2 separate regions of the Homo sapiens genome follow, and region 2 is linked to region 1. Evidence: fine-mapped expression QTL. Tissue or cell type: fibroblasts. Region 1 holds a variant in brackets; the other region holds the start of a gene. All regions are shown on one strand. Distances are from middle to middle.

Region 1 (8,088 bases):
ACTGACAAATTCTCCCCAGGATAAGTATCCCAGGTACCAAAAATCACACCACCTGAAAATGCTCCAGAGATGTGTGGAACGCTCGTCTCCCAAAACCTCAAGCAGAACTGCGATGCCAAGCAAAGCACCCCCCAAGAAAGACCTGAAAGGCCAACGGACTGTAATCTGTGTGCAGGTCCAGCCCTGACTCCATTTTAGTATAGCGTTCACGATCCACTTGACTTGAGGGAGACAAATCTCATTCCACTCAGGAATGAGGAGTGGGGAGGAAGGAGAAGCTGGGAGGTGACGGAGGTCTGCATCTTGCCTTGGACAAGTTTCCACTGTTATCACCCTAGAGAAGTCACCCTCTTCAAGACTCGGTTTCTTCCACTGCATAACAGTGATGCCACCACCTATTCCTACATTGATAGAAGGGCCTTGGTAATAGCAGGAACGGGGAGACAATGTGTGCTTGCTAAATACTCCTTTCTTCCTCTCTGCCACCTTGAGCTTGACCGAGAACTCCCTTACCCTCTGGCTCTGGGTTTCCTGGGCATCTGCCAGCCTGCCCTCCAGCCCCATGCCCCCCCACCCTCCGCCCCTCACCTGCACGGCCTGCTCCTTCTTTCTTCTCTCTTCCTCCAGCAGGCGGCGCTGCTTCTTGGTCAGGACTTCGATGAAGCCTTCGCCCACCATAGAACCCACCTCACTCTCCTCCCCGGGGCTGGACCCGCAATTTTCAATGATGGCACCTGAACCAAGATTTCACGAGAAGGAACAGTCTTTCCACTCACCAGGAGACAAGAACAACCCAATTCAACAGGCGCCTGAGATCTAGCATCAGGCTCGACAGAAACCTGGACAGGACTTCCGCACTTTTCTCAGGCCGCCTCTGATCTAACACATTGTTACCCCAAACCAAAGAGGCCCAAGGGCACAACTGAGAGAACACGCAAAGAGCTTAAACCCCAGCTCTGCTCCTACAGCTGTGTGTGACCTCGGACACACCACCGAACGTCTCTGGGCCCCAGGCTTCCTCTCTTTAAAGCCCGGAAGCTGCAGGGTGTCACGGGGATTCAACGGGCTGTGAGCAACACTCGGTGGGAATCCTACCTACTCTGCTCACCTCTACAGCCCCAGAACCCAGCCCAGGGCCTGGCCGAGCTGTTCCGAAAGCTAAGGTACTCAGTGCAAGGGCAAACTCGGGAGGCCCGAGGACTGCATGGCCCCTGGTTCTGCCTGAGTTCTTTCCCCTGAAGATATGAGGATGACTTACTTCCATAGTTCAGGTCAAACTGTTTCATGGCCTCTCCCTGTTCACCTGCCCTCGGAGCAGCCAACTTGGCCTCCTTCTCTGCCTTTTTACTGGAGGCTTCGGGAAGGTCAGCACTGGCATGGGCTGCCCGCTCCAGGGCATAGGGGGAGTGGCCACTCCCACTGCTGCAGCCACTAAGACCTCCAGGCAAGGCCTCGTCTGGGGATCTGTAAGGGAAAGAGGATCTTGTTAACCAGAGCTGGGGAAGGAGGGAAAACACCGCACGTGCACACAGCCTGCACACAAGCCCGGCACCCTGATCTAGGCCCACTTCCTCTAGCTGACTCCTCGGGTGGGGAGGAGCGGCAGGCTGGCCACAGTGCATCCATGTCCGTGTGCAAACATACGTGTAAGGCTGCCCCCACCGGCTCTGCCTGCTCCTGGGGAAAGTGGCTCCCCAGGGCTCTCCCACATGCTATGTTCAGAGTGTAGGGGGGAGAGAGACAAGGGGAATATGCTCAGAATGGAGACGCCAGCATTTCTGCTCCTCTCCAGGACTGCCCTGCCGGAGGGCCCTTGGGGCAGAAAACTGAGGTGAAGCCAAGGGTCAGCCTCTGGCGCCTGGAAAGCTGGATTAGATGCCACCTGAAAGAGTCGGTGTTCCCTGTGGCTCCTTCTCTGGGAGTTTCTCTGCCTTGAATTCTAAGGAGAGTGGAGGTGTGAAGCCATCTTCCTCAGTATGCTGAGGACAGGGAAGGCCTCAGCAGCCCCTGCACCTCCCTGTCCGAGGCACAAGCCAAGTGCAGTCAGTCAACCCAGACTGTGCAGGGGACCCTCTCCTGGTCCCTGAGCAGAGGTCATCACCCGAATGCCTCTGGCTGTGGAAGAGGTGCTCGCCAGACCATGTGCAGCCTGCTCCCCTCTGCGTTTGCTGGGCTCCTGCCATGCTGAGGTGGCAACCCCACCGTGGGGCCACGTCTCCTCACAGTGGAGAAGCAGAACCATCTAGGAAGAGCCACTTCCATGCAGCCACGAGGCCAGCGATGCCCCCTAGGACGCCGCCTGGCAGCAACTCCGGAGCAGAGGACTCTGGTGGACTGACCGGCACCTGGCACTGTGCACAGGCAACGTTCCTCGCTGCAGCGGCCCCTCGGCGGGGCTCCAGGGACACATGACTGGACTCTCAGGTCAGGTGCTGGACAGTGGCCTCAAGAGCACCACTGGGGTGGGGGTGGGGGTGGGAGCTCTAGCCACAATAACACCACCACGAGAAGCAGACAGGCAATGTGGGGGCAGGCAATGGAGACGCGCACAGACGGCCTGGGGGCAGGCCCCCAGCCCCGACACACGGCGGCATCGGCATGCATGCGTGAACTCAGTGCTGCTGAGAACAGAACACAACAACAAAAAGGGCCCAGATGGTGTCTGGTTTTACCTTTTCACTTTCAAAGGCGTCCCATTCTGTTGGCTCTCATAGCGAGGGGAGGTGTCACCACCACCTGGCCTAACGGGCTTCTCCCCAAACCCTCCCGGCTCCAGCTTTCGGCTCTGTCTGTCAACCACGGGTCTCTGACTGGAGAAGCTCCTCTTGGCCAGCTCCTTCTTCTCACCCAAACTAGCCCCCGACAGGCCACCATCCACCTGGGAGTCGGGCTCGGACCCAGGGCCTTCCCGCCGCTCCCGCCGCTCGCTGAAGTCGCTGCTTTCGGAGGCCGTCTCCCACTCCTCATTGGCGTGATCGGAGGAGTTCTGGTAGGAGAGCTCAGGGGACCTGCGGCCCACAGTGCCACTCTTGTCCCCAGAACACAGTTTGGGCCTGCCTGGCCACTGACCTGCCAGCAGGTGGGGCTCCTCCTCGGGTCCCCACAGGCCCAGGGACTCCCGCTCTTGCCGGAGGCGCCGGAATCGAGGGGGCTTATCTTGGCGTGGGGGGCGCCTTCTCCTGAAGGGCCGGTTCTCTGCATTTTCAGAATCTGCCACGTGTTCATCTTGGAAGAAGGATCTCTTGTCCTCC[G/A]CGCGGCTGTCCTCAAAGCCCCGGCCACCAAATGCGTCAGGGTGTCTGTAGGAATCTGGGACATAGTCTCTGTCTGTAGGTCGCCGGGATCCGCATGTGTCGGAAGGGCCATATTCCTGCCAAGAGCTGCCTGGACTTTTGCTCTGCCAGTGGGGTGACTCTTTGGAGACGAAGGTTCTCCGTCCATACCCGCAATTGCTCAGCCGGGGAGGGAGGGCTCGCCCAAAGGCCCGAGGGCCTCGGCTCTTGGCATCTAGACCGCTGTGGTCCTCAGAGCACCCCTTGTTGGACCGCCAAGAATCTCTGCAGTCGCCCTTCTTCAAGGTGCTCTCCTCCCTCTCCAGGAGCGAGCCTTCATTCCCGTTCTCGGAGCCCCTCTGCCGGCGGCGCTTGGGAAGTTCTTCATACTCTGAGCCCTCGCTATGGGTCTCACTGGCAACTCTCCGTCGGGGCTTGGCTCTGGGGCAGTCCTCTGGCCGCGCAAACTCTCGCAGGCCCCGGCCACGGCCGCTGCGCTGACTGCTGCAGTAGATGCTGCGGGCCCCCAGGACCCCCCCACCACAGAGGCCGCTCCCATTTCCGCCAGCAGGCCGACCACGAAAAGTGAACTCTCTGAAACCACGGCCCCGGCCCCGGGCCTGTCCTCTGACCCCAAAGGCTTGCTCCTCATCAATAAAGATCCAGTTATTTCTCTTCATGGGGGGAACATCGCTGGACTCTCGTGGGGGTCTGGCTTCCCAGGCCTTGTCAGGTTTCTCCTCCTCTTCAAATTTGGTGGCCTCGCGGCCAAAAGTGGCATGGCCAGGGCCTTTGTCCTCCAAAGTGGTGGTGGAGGAGTTGGCCAGAGAGGCATCGTTCTCTTCGTCCTCATCCTTTTCTGCCGTGGGGCTCTGCTCCTTCTCCTTGGCCAGCCGGGTACTCTCCTCCCCTAGCTCCTGCTTAATCTTCTCAAGCTCCTTCTCCTTGTCTTCCACCTTGAGGGCTTTCAGGACTGGTTTCTTGATGGGTCCCGACCTCCGGGTCCTGCCCGTCTGCTCCGGGTGCTGGCTGCTGGAGCTCCGGGGCTCGGGAGTCCATTCAGGCTCCGAGGATGGCTGTTTGTTGGGGCTCCCGTTCTTGTCCCAGGAGGAGATGTTAAAGGCCGTCCCCTCCCGGGGTGTCTCCCGCTCAACACCATGGGCTGTGTCAGCGGTCTCTGGCTGGTGGCTAACATCCCAACTGCCACACTCTGGCTTTTTCTCATCTGGGACAAAGTCAGGCTCCAATGGGGAACACCTGAGGTTTTGGGTGTGACCCCCAGGAGCACCTGCATCCTGAACATTTTCTTGGGGTGGAAACAAAAGCTCCTGGCCTATTCTTTGAGAAGAGATACAGCTGTCAAAGTCTGCTTGGGCCTTCTTGTCAAAAGCACTCAAGTACTCCTCCCCTCTCTCCTCAAAGAGATCGCGCTGAGCACTTACGCCCCCTGCCCTTCCGAGTGAGGCAGAGAAAGAGCTTTCATTCCTGAAAAGGAACCAGAAAAATCAGTCAATGCGATTGGAGCCTGGTTCCTGGTTTCCATGCTGAACACAGAGCTTAGTTTTAAAAAGAAAAAACAAAAACAAAAACTAAAACACTTTTTAAAAAGAAAGCTAGAAAAACAAAACAAAAAACAACAACCAAAAAAAAACATAAGCATCAACATTTGTTCTATCTTTAAACACGTCTCAGAAATGCCAGGCCATGAATTGGTCGGTGGCCCCTGGAGTCCTTGAGAGTGAAGACTGTCGTGGCCGCAGGCTGGGTACGGTGTGCCCCCTGGAGACAGAGGAGCCAGGCAATCCTCCGGGTCAAAGAGCAAGAGCAAGCTGGAGCCTGGGAGGCCGTGAAGAGTCTGGGGCTATGGGGGTGGCAGGGCTAACTCTGTTTACTTCCACAGAAATGAGCCAAGACCCATGCTCTGGACCCCACCTGCCTTGTGAAGCCCCCACCCGCCTGCCCTGTGCCCAGGATTTGAGGACCCCGGGACTTCTCCTTCACCTTACGTCTCACCATCTGAAAAGAGCCTCTTGGACAAAGCATTCAAGCAATCCTCCTCACACTCTCCTTCCCCAGAGGAACCAGGAGTCCCTTCAAGGAGCACGTCTCCCGTGGGCAGTGTCTCCTAGGATGGTAGCTCATCCCAGGGCCCTCTCAATTAGGACCTGGAGTCCTCCTTCAGTGGCAAGGCAGCAGGACCAGGCTTCATCTCACCTGACACGCATGTCCATAGCCAAGGTGTCACTCGACTTCGGGTGCGGGAGCGGGTAGCCCTTGCTCTGCAGTGCCATGTAGCCCTCTGGGCTCCACACAGGGGGTGAGTCGATGGGGGTCACTTTTCTTTCTTGGAGTGGGGGCACACAGTTCTGATCCTCAGAGCGACAGCCTGTCCCATTGAGGGACTCCTGGGGCATCATGGGCTTCATCAGTCCTGAAGAAGGCAAAGACTGATCTACATCATCTCATTTAGAAAGCCCTGCTCCAATCTCAGGGTCAACCAAAGGCCCAAAGAAGTTAACAGTTACCCTGACTTTCATGTGGATACAGCACCCCACCCACCTACACATCATAGGGCTCTTAATCTTTCCTGACCTGAGGACCTCTGAAGGCACACACACATGCACCCTGCCTGGTTCAAAGACCTGTCCAAGGAAGGGGGCAAGAAAAGCACATTTGTCAGATATAGGCTTGGTCCTTAACACTCAGGACAGGGGATGAAGCCTTTCTATACAGGGCAGGGAGATACAACTGAGACATTGTTTAAAACAAAGACCCAAAAGGGCCACATCCTCAAAAGGCACATTAGATAGACACATGCGCTTTACTACCAGGAACAGACTGGCGGGTCTGTCTGGCCTGGACCAGGGCAGGGAAACAATTGTCCCCCTCCCAGGAATTCAGACTCACATGCTTACTTTCATGGAGGTTTAAGGGACAAAGACTTCAGATTTCTACCTCCCCAAATGCTTTGCTAAGTTGAAGGTGCATGTTAGAATTTTCACGTAACCACTAACATATAGAAATGAAATGTAGAAGCAAAAGAAAAACAATAGGACCAAGAAAAGGCAGGAATTAGAAGAAAAGGCACAGAAAGAGAAGAATAAGAATGGAATGCATGAAATATCATAGTTGGAATATCTAAATATAATAATCCCAATAAGGCTGGGCATGGTGGCTCATGCCTGTAACCCCAGCACTTTGGGAGGCCAAGGCAGGTAGACCACTTGAGGTCAGGAGTTCGAGACCAGCCTGACCAACATAGTGAAACCCCGTCTCTACTAAAAATACAAAAAAATCAGCCAGGCATGGTGGCAGGTGCCTGTAATCTCAGCTACTCAGGAGGCTGAGGCAGGAGAATCGCTTGAACCCGGGAGGTGGAGGTTGCAGTAGGCCGAGATCACACCACTGCACTCCAGCCTGGGTGACAGAGCAAGACTCTGTCTCAAAAAAAAAAAAAAAAAAAAAAATTAGCTGGGCGTGGTGGTGGGCGCCTGTAATCCCAGCTACTTGGGAGGCTGAGGCAGAAGAATCGCTTGAACCCGGGAGGCGGAGGTTGCAGTGAGTTGAAATTGCACCACTGCACTCCAACCTGCATGACAGAGCAAGACTCTGTCTCAAATAATAATAATAATAATCATCATCCCAATAAATCTAAAAGGACCAACTTTTGCAATTAAAAGTCATAGACTTTCAGAGTGGTAAAGCTATACACATCTTGTAGATACAAAGATACACTCCCAAAACATAAGGGCTCAAAGAGGCTAACAGTAAAAATTGGAACAAAAGACTTCAAATACTTATCAACAGAAAACTATAATTATTATATTGCTATCAAAGTAGGCAATAAAGATAGAAAGCACTATTAATGACAACAAAGGTACTACATAAGGATAAAAGGAACAAGATACAGAAATTCTAAACCTGTATGCCTCCAGATAGACAAAGCAAAAACTGACAGGCTCCCAAAGAAGATTTGACAAATCCATCATCATAGTGGGACATTTTAAAACACCTTTTAGTAACTGGTCAAAGGGATAAAAACTTGCAATGATGAAGACATTTGCACAACACAATTAGCATGCTCAACTTAATGGACTATCTCCAACCAGAGAATACAGTCTTTTCAGGCAAATGTAGAATGTTAAAAAAGAATTGCCATGGAAGAGGCTACAGAGAAAACCCAACAAATGTCAAGCAACCTAAGTCAGGAGTTGGTCAGCAAACTACAGCCATTAAACAAAACTCAGCCTGCTGCCAGTTTTTACAAGTAACGTTTTATGGAAAAACAACCATGTTCACTCAATTACTATTGTTTATGGCTGTTTTTGTCCTACAACACCAAAACTGACTAGCTGATCAAGGCCTAAAAGACTTACTATCTGGTCATTAGTAGAAGTTTGCTGACCCCTGGTCTGTATCACACAGACCATATTATCTGACCACAGAGCAACTACATTAGAAATTAGTACTGCAAAGAGAATCTTAAAAGCCAAAAATTAATAAACTAAGTATATGATAATATTTTAAAGGAAATAAGAAAAGAAAAAGCAGGCATTATTAAAATAAAACCCAAATAAGTTAGAGGAATGAAGAAGCCCAAATACTGATTTTAAAAAGGCACTAGACAAACCTTGGGAAAGACTAATCAAAGAAAAAAGAGACAGCACAAAGAACATTAAGAATGAGAAGAAGGACAAAACGACATAGCAGAAATCTAAAATTAATTAAAGCAATTTATGATACACGATCTTCATGACTTTCCCAACAAATCTTTATGACAGAACTATTATTGTACCTACACTTTGCAAGTGACTACTTT
Region 2 (8,099 bases), 55 kb before region 1:
TTTTCAACATCCCGCACCAGAGAGCAGGTAAGAGAATGAATCCAGAGTAGACAGTGGTCACTCTTAGGAGTACTGCCTTGCCTGGCTCTGGGAAACCCAAACTCCGAGGGCTCCAAGCCTCCACCCAACTCTCCACCTACCCCCACCCCCCAATTCAGCAACAACGTTTTTTTGTTTTTTTTTTTTTTTTTGGAGACAGGGTCTCGCTCTGTTACCCAGGCTGTAGCGCAGCGGCGCGATTTCTCTTCAATGCAACCTCTGCCTCCCAAGCTCAAGCAATCCTCCCATCTCAGCCTCCCCAGTAGCTGGGACCACAGGCCTATGCCACCACACTCAGCTAGTTTTTATTTTTTTCTTTTTTTGCAGACAGAAAAAAAAGTGCAGTGGCACGATCTCAGCTCATTGCAACCTCTGCCTCCTGGGTTCAAGTTCTCCTGCCTCAGCCTCCTGAGTAGCTGTGATTACAGGCGCATGCCAACATGCTCGGCTTATTTATTTACTTATTTATTTATTTATTTTTGCCCAGGCTGCAGTGCAGTGGCGTGATCTCGGCTCACTGCAATCTCCGCCTCCCAGGTTCAAGCGATTCTCCTGCCTCAGCCTCCCGAGTAGCTGGGATTACAGGCGCCCGCCACTGTGCTCAGCTAATTTTTTGTATTTTTAGTAGAGACGGGGTTTCACTATGTTGGCCAGGCTAGTCTTGAACTCCTGACCTCGTGAGTCGCCTGCCTCAGCCTCCCAGAGTGCCGGGATTACAGGCGTGAGCCACCGTGCCCGGCCAATTTTTGTATTTTTAGTAGAGATGGAGTTTCACCATGTTGGCCAGGCTGGTCTCGAACTCCTGACCTCAAGTGATCCGCCTGCCTCGGCCTCCCAGAGTGCTGGGATTACAGGCGTGAACCACTGCACCCGGCTGACTCATGCTTCTTTAAGGACACTCTTCGGCTGGGCACAGAGGCTCACACCTGTAATCCCAGCACTTTGGGAGGCTGAGGCAGGTGAATAGGAGTTCGAGACCAGCCTGGGCAACATGGCAAAACCCTGTCTCTATACTAAAAATACAAAAATTAGTCGGGCCTGGTGGCAGGTGCCTGTAGTCCCAGCTACTCGGGGAGGCTGAGGCAGGATAATTGCTTGAACTCGGGAGGCGGAGGTTGCGGTAAGCCAAGATTATGCCACTGCACTCCAGCCTGGGCAACAGAGCAAGATTCCGTCTCAAAACGAACAAAAAAAACCCATAAAAGTCACTCTTCTTCACAATATGGGGAGTTGGGGACCAGCTAGAGGTTTGGGGCTGGCCCTCTGCTTGGTGGTGGTTGGGATGGTCCCATAGGGGAGCCACTGTGGCCCAGAGGCCTGAGCCGTGTGGGCCCGGGCCTTGTTTACTGGACTGTGGGCTTCCTGGGTGCTGGGCCTGCTCCCAGGGAGTGGCTCCTTCCCAAAGCGTCCCTTTGCCTTGGGAGCGGAACCACGCAATAGCCTGACTGGCCCTGGCAGCCCATGCCTTGTGGCCAGTCACCAGAGAGGGCACACGAGACCCAGGCCAGGGGTATCAGGGACAGCCCCTGGTCAGACTCTGCTAGTTTCCCTGCCTTTCGCTACGTGGCTGGACCACAGGGGAAGAAATGGCAAGAAACCGTGTCTAACTCTCCCTTGATACAAATTCAAAGTTGGCTTGGGGGATGGCCACCTTTGGGACACACACCTGGACAGATCTAAGCCAGCAGCGTGGCTGTTTGCTAGGCACTGTTCTGTGCCTGGGGCTTAATTTACAGAGGTACGGCTGAATGACCATGAGGAGAGGCCAAAGCCATCGCAAGATTGATCGCATTTCCTGAGAGAAGGGGCACCCATGCCATGCACGGTTCTCAGTAGAGAACCCCAGGTTTGGTCAGGAGGCAGAAGCAGGGGCGAGGGGAGAGCCCAGGCCTGAGGCTTTCTTGGGGTTTCCATGGAAAAGGCCTGGCAGGGCAGGGAAAGAGTTTAAAATTGGCTAGTTTGAGTAATTCTAGCAGGCTCTGGGCTGCAGAGTGGTCTCTAGTCACCTGATACCTGGCCCTGGGTGACTTAGGGCAGGGAGAATCTTGCCTCCAAAGGCGAGAATTAGATAAGGAGGTAGCTGGGGCTGTAGACTTGGGGTCTTTTTTTTTTTTTTTTTTTTTTTTGAGACAGAGTCTCACTCTTTCCCCCAGGCCGGAGTGCAGTAGCGTGATCTTGGCTCACTGCAAGCTCCACCTCCCGGGTTCACACCATTCTCCTGCCTCAGCCTCCCGAGTAGCTGGGACCACAGGCGCCCGCCACCATGCCCGGCTAATTTTTTGTATTTTTAGTAGAGACGGGGTTTCACCATGTTAGCCAGGATGGTCTCGATCTCCTGACCTCGTGATCCACCCGCCTCGGCCTCCCAAAGTGCTGGGATTACAGGTGTGAGCCACCGCGTCCGCCCGGGGTTGTCTGTTTTGTATATGAAAAGCATGCTCTGCCCCGAGCCTTAGCTATCTCTCTCTCTTTTTTATTTTTGAGACGGAGTCTTGCTCTGTGGCCCAGGCTGGAGTGCAGTGGCACCATCTCGGCTCACTGCAACCTCCACCTCCCGGGTTCAAGCGATTCTCCTGCCTCAGCCTCCCAAGTAGCTGGGATTACAGGCGCCCGCCACCACGCCCAGCTGATTTGTTGCATTTTTAGTAGAGGCGGGGTTTCACCGTGTTCGCCAGGATGGTCTCGATCTCCTGACCTCGTGATCTACCCGCCTCAGCCTCCAAAAGTGTTGGGATTACAGGCGTGAGCCACCGCGCCCGGCTGGAAATCCATAATTTCAATGGATCAGAATTTGCCTGTCACGTTCTCTGTGCCAGGCACGGAGCGGGGGGGCGGCAGGGATGGAACCCGGCACATGGGCCTCTGCCTCCTTGGCGCGCTGTAGGCGCGAGCCTAAAGTCATCAGGCGACAGCCCCCGCCACGTTCCGGGGCGCCCCGACGGCTCCAGCAGCGGGTGGGGTGGGAGGCGTCCGGACAGTCCGGAGGCCTCGATGGCCAAGAGGAGCCTGGGCTGGAGGGGGCCAGGCCCGGGGGCGGCCGGGGGAGGGCCCGGGACTGGCGCAGAGGCAGCGCGAGGCAGAGGCAAGCACTCGGACGAAGGCGCAGCCCCAGCCTCGGGGTGCGGAACGGGCACCTTCCGGGCCACTTGAGTCTGAGACCTTGTAGCCGGCTCGAGGCCCGGGCGCAGCAGTCCCTGCCAGCCAGCTTTCGGCGCAATGGGACGCGGGCGCTCCTGGTGTGCCGGCCTCGGGCCCTGCACCCTCACGCATGCGCGGCCCCCCCCCCCCCGGTGGACTACAACTCCCGGCGTGCCCCGCGCGCCTCCCGGAAGTGATCGCTCCGGTTGCCTCCGACCTCGGCGCTGGGCGGGCGCGCCGGGCCTGGGGAAGGGGCGGGCGCGGGGACCCGATGCGCGGGAGCGGAGGCCGAGATGGCTTCGGCGGGAGGCGAAGACTGCGAGAGCCCCGCGCCGGAGGCCGACCGTCCGCACCAGCGGCCCTTCCTGATAGGGGTGAGCGGCGGCACTGCCAGCGGGAAGGTAAGGGGCCGAGCGGGCCGGGGTCTCGCCTCTCGCCGGTGCCTACGGGCGGCCCGGTCCAGAGAGGAGACCCCAGCCCCGGCCGAGGGGCCCCCTGCCAGGCAGGGGCAGGGCGCGGGAGCGAAGGGGCTGCAGGCCGCGATGGGCCGGGGCGGGCTGGGGCGGGCGAGGGGTTGGGGCGCTGGGCCTCGGGGCTCCCCCACAGCCTCTCCGCCGGCCGGGCTCCTCGGAGCCCCAAGTCCGTGCTAACCCCGTTGGGCCCCCGCGGCCCTTCCGCTGAGACCATCCACACCTGTTGGTGTCCTCCCGCCTTCCGAGCATACCCCCCAGGGGGCGGGTGGGTCAGTGTCTCCAGAAGCCGGCCCCGTGCCTGTCACAGGACGAGCGGTTCCAGGCGGGAATCCCGCTTCTGTGTCTCCAGTCGACCGTGTGTGAGAAGATCATGGAGTTGCTGGGACAGAACGAGGTGGAACAGCGGCAGCGGAAGGTGGTCATCCTGAGCCAGGACAGGTTCTACAAGGTCCTGACGGCAGAGCAGAAGGCCAAGGCCTTGAAAGGACAGTACAATTTTGACCATCCAGGTAAATCGCGAGCCCAACGATGTGGGGAGGGCAGACCCCATTCTGGGCGGCCGCTAACCAGCTGCGCTTGGGCCCAAGGTTGGATGGATGCAGACCCGCTTGGGCTGTTCCCCCAACTCGCCACGCAGCCTGCAGTGGAGTTGGCTGCACAGTGAAGTCAGGGGAACTTTGCTGAGTTCTCTGGGCCCTGAGTGTCCCCCCAGGAGCGTGGTTGGAGCCAGTCAGGAAGCCTGTTGCACTGTGGGGAGCCCTGCCCTGCCCTGCCACAACTGTGATCCTGGAGAAATCCTCCCATCTTCCCTTCCCACGTTGGGGCCTTTAGGGCCCTCCACACACACCTCTGCCCACTGTGCCCTCCCGTGCTTTGGGGCAAAGTCCTCAGAGAGGCCAGTGTGGGAGGCGGTAGGTAAACTAGTGCTGGTGGCTTGAAGCTCCGGGCCAGGTAAACGGGCAGATGCGGCAGGGAGACACCTGCCACTGCTAGAAGATTCCACCCTGGCTGGCTGGCATGGTCAGCCTTTTCCCAAGGACTTGTGGGAAGAAGGCCTGCAAAGCCGCAGTCTAACCAGTTAGTCCCAGAAAGAGAGAGAAGCAGAGGCCCAGCCTACCCACCTCCCAGGAAGAGCTGATCAGAAAACCCCTGTGTTCCGGCATCTCAGGGGCACAGAGCTTGGGCAGTGGCACAGCCCGAGAACAGCAAGGACAGGGTCATCCTGTGGTCTGCAGGGCTGCAGAGGGCACTGTTGCTACCAAACATACACTGCCGTAGTCCTAGTCTACCTGTGCTAGGGTTCTCGGTGTCCCCAGCACCCAGCTGTGCTGACCCCAGAGCAGAGAGGGTTCCCTGCTGTCCGCTGCACGAGGGCATCTGCCTGTCTTGCCTTTGTCTCCAACCCTGCAGATGCCTTTGATAATGATTTGATGCACAGGACTCTGAAGAACATCGTGGAGGGCAAAACGGTGGAGGTGCCGACCTATGATTTTGTGACACACTCAAGGTAAGCAGGTGGTTCTAGGGAGGGCCGAGGAGAGGGGCCAGCTAGGACGTCCCCTCGGGCTCACACAGACCTGCCTGGCGGCAGGCCTCCCCCGGTTGGTTTCTGTGGGTCCCCCACCCCTTCCCACAGTCAGTGTCCCTGCAATGGAAGCTGACTGTGTGTGTGGCCTGGAGACCCTGTGTCTGCAGCAGAGCCCCTTTCCCCGTGCGCCCCTCAGGTTACCAGAGACCACGGTGGTCTACCCTGCGGACGTGGTTCTGTTTGAGGGCATCTTGGTGTTCTACAGCCAGGAGATCCGGGACATGTTCCACCTGCGCCTCTTCGTGGACACCGACTCCGACGTCAGGCTGTCTCGAAGAGGTAAGGCGGCCGCGGGCCTCCGTGCCTGCCTGGCCGAGGCTGGCGGCAGGTCCTGAGGTCTGAAGCACGCCTGCCCCTTGCCGCTGCAGTTCTCCGGGACGTGCGCCGAGGGAGGGACCTGGAGCAGATTCTGACGCAGTACACCACCTTCGTGAAGCCGGCCTTCGAGGAGTTCTGCCTGCCGGTACCTGTGCTCGCTGCTTCAGAGCCCATTTTCCCCTTTCACAAGGACACATGGGACCCAGTACTGTGAGAGGGCTTAGTGCTGGGTGACAGTGATCTGATTGAAAAAAAGGAGAAGAATTTGGCTCATTATGGCCACATACCCTGGGAGTAGTTCTCAGCTGTAAAAACATTCTCTGTGCCTGCTCCTCCCTCTGCCTAAAAAAGCCCCATATCTCCCCCACATTCACACTGGCCGCTTCCTCCCTGCCTCAGGCCCTTGCCCAGCGTCCCCATTCAACACTGAAAACCCTCTGCACCCAGCGCCAGCCTCTCTGCCTGCTTCCTTTTTCCGGGGCACTTACCATCATCTGACACGTCCTGGGTGCTTATTCCCCGCAGAGTGGGGAAGCCCAGGAGCACTTTAGTCTGTTCACTGCCAAGGCCGGGATCTGGCCCTCAGAAGGTGCTTCAGAGCTGCTCCTCCAGGGTCTGTGACCCCAGGCTGCTCTGGGCCAGTGCTCTGAAATCTTGGAGTGAGCGCTGTGCCCAGATCCCAGCTGGCTCGCAGAGAGCAGGAACTCCCCGCTGCACACCCACCTGTCTTTTCTCCATTTCTCCATCTTGTGTTTCTGGCTTGGTGGGACTCGTGGCTCTACTCAAATGGGAGTGTTTTGCACGGGAACATTTTGCCTGTTAAGGTAAAAATACAGCACAAAGGAACTGAAACCAAGATTCCTGCCTTTGATAATGTAGGACAAGTAAGTTCTATCTGCTGCTTTTTTTTTTTTTGAGATAGGGTCTCTTTTTGTCGTCTAGGGTGGAGTGCAATGGCACGATCTCGGCTCACTCCAAACTCCACCTCCCAAGTTTAAGCAATTCTCCTGTCTCACCCTTCCGAGTAGCTGGGATTACAGGCGTACGCCACCACACCCAGCTAATTTTTGTATTTTTAGTGGAGATGGGGTTTTGCCATGTTGGCTGGGCTGGTCTCGAACTCCTGGACTCAAGTGACCCACCCACTTTGGCCTCCCAAAATGCTGGGATTGAGCCACTGTGCCTGGCCTTTTTTTAAATTTTATTTTTAATGAGGCAGAGTCTTGCTCTGTTGCCCAGGCTGGAGTACAGTGGTGCAATCACAGCTCACTGCAGTCTTGACCTCCTAAGCTCAAGCGATCCTTCCACCTCAGCAACCCGAGTAGCTGGGCCCACAGGCGTGCACCACCATGCTCGGTTAATTTTTAAATTTTTTGTAGAGATGGGGTCTCCCTGTGTTGCCCAGGCTGGTCTCCATCTCCTGGGATCTAGTGGTCCTCCCACCTCAGCTTCCCAAAGTGCTGAGATTACAGGTGTGAGCCACTATGCCTGGCCTATTGGCTGCTATATAAAGAAAACTTTTGTTTTTTTTTGCATTCATGCTGTCTGAAATTTCTAAAATATAATTTTAAAAGTAAAGTTAACTTGTTTTAGTCTCTCATTCACAGAAAGATATTTGGCAAAAAGTAGGTGATTCGCAGTAAAACTCTGGATATCAAATCTGCCTCAGCGACCTGAGTAGAGGAAGTGCTGTCACCTGCTATGTTCTGGGCCCAGGCCCCAGAGATGTTTTTGGTTGGTTTGTTTGCTTGCTTGTTTTTTGAGACAGGGTCTCCCTCTGCCACCCAGGCCCAAGTGCAGTGGTGAGATCTTGCTTCACTGCAGCCTCCACCTTCCACTCTCAAGTGATCCTCCCACCTCAGGCTCCTGAGTAGCCAGAGACTACAGGCACGCACCACCACGCCTGGCTAATTTTTCCTTTTTTTTTTTTTTTTGCACAGACGGGGTTTTGCCATGTTGGCTGGGCTGGTCTCAAACTCCTGGCCTCAAGCAGTCCACCCACCTCAGCCTCCCAAAGTGCTGGGATCACCGGCGTGAGCCACCGCACCCGGCCCCAGCCCCACCCAGAGCCGTTCTTGAGCCTCCTTTTCCTTCACCTTCATGTTGAGTGGCTTGTGCAGTCCTCTGCCTGGACCCCGTAGGTATTTCCCAACTGTATTCAGGCCCATCCCTGCTGGCGGTTAAGACCCCTGTCAGCTCTCCCGGACTCCTCCAGCCCGTCAGACTATCAGACTAGAATAGAAAGCAGCCCTCGCCCTTGCGCTCGTGCTTTCATGAGATGGGGTCCCACCAACTGCAGACACAGCTGTCCCCAGGACTTGGTCCCTGTCTGCCTCTTGCAGCTTGTCTCTTCTGCCGCCTTCTTGACCCAAATCCACACGCCAGCAGCACGCACCGTTCCAAGTTCCGTCCTTCGGCCCAGACCCTGCCCTCCCTCTTCCCTCAGCTTTGTCTGATTCAGCCATGTTCTCCAGGCTGCTTCCCCTTCCCTAAAGCCACCCCCCAACCCCCACCATCTGGCTGCGGACCCTCCCCAGCAGCCC

Evidence for each region. PIP is the estimated chance that this variant, and not a neighbour inherited with it, causes the effect.
Region 2: it holds the start of UCK1, and the variant in region 1 is fine-mapped to the expression of UCK1 in fibroblasts (GTEx, PIP above 0.99).

The regions. Positions count from the first base shown.
Region 1 is chr9:131,471,120-131,479,207 of GRCh38, reverse strand. PRRC2B (proline rich coiled-coil 2B) reads right to left here. Exons shown (of 32, transcript NM_013318.4): 15 at 5,484-5,700; 16 at 2,673-4,754; 17 at 1,259-1,464; 18 at 589-734. Among named protein-coding and RNA genes, the nearest start is that of SNORD62A, 11 kb to the left of the region's middle. RefSeq lists a silencer at 552-846. The variant G/A (reference allele first, on the strand shown) is at 3,252.
Region 2 is chr9:131,526,546-131,534,644 of GRCh38, reverse strand. It overlaps UCK1 (uridine-cytidine kinase 1), which reads left to right and starts at 3,382. Exons shown (of 7, transcript NM_031432.5): 1 at 3,382-3,578; 2 at 4,000-4,159; 3 at 5,061-5,157; 4 at 5,375-5,517; 5 at 5,607-5,701. The coding sequence starts at 3,471. RefSeq lists silencers at 2,977-3,146, 3,287-3,646, 3,847-3,896 and enhancers at 3,312-4,225, 4,931-6,130.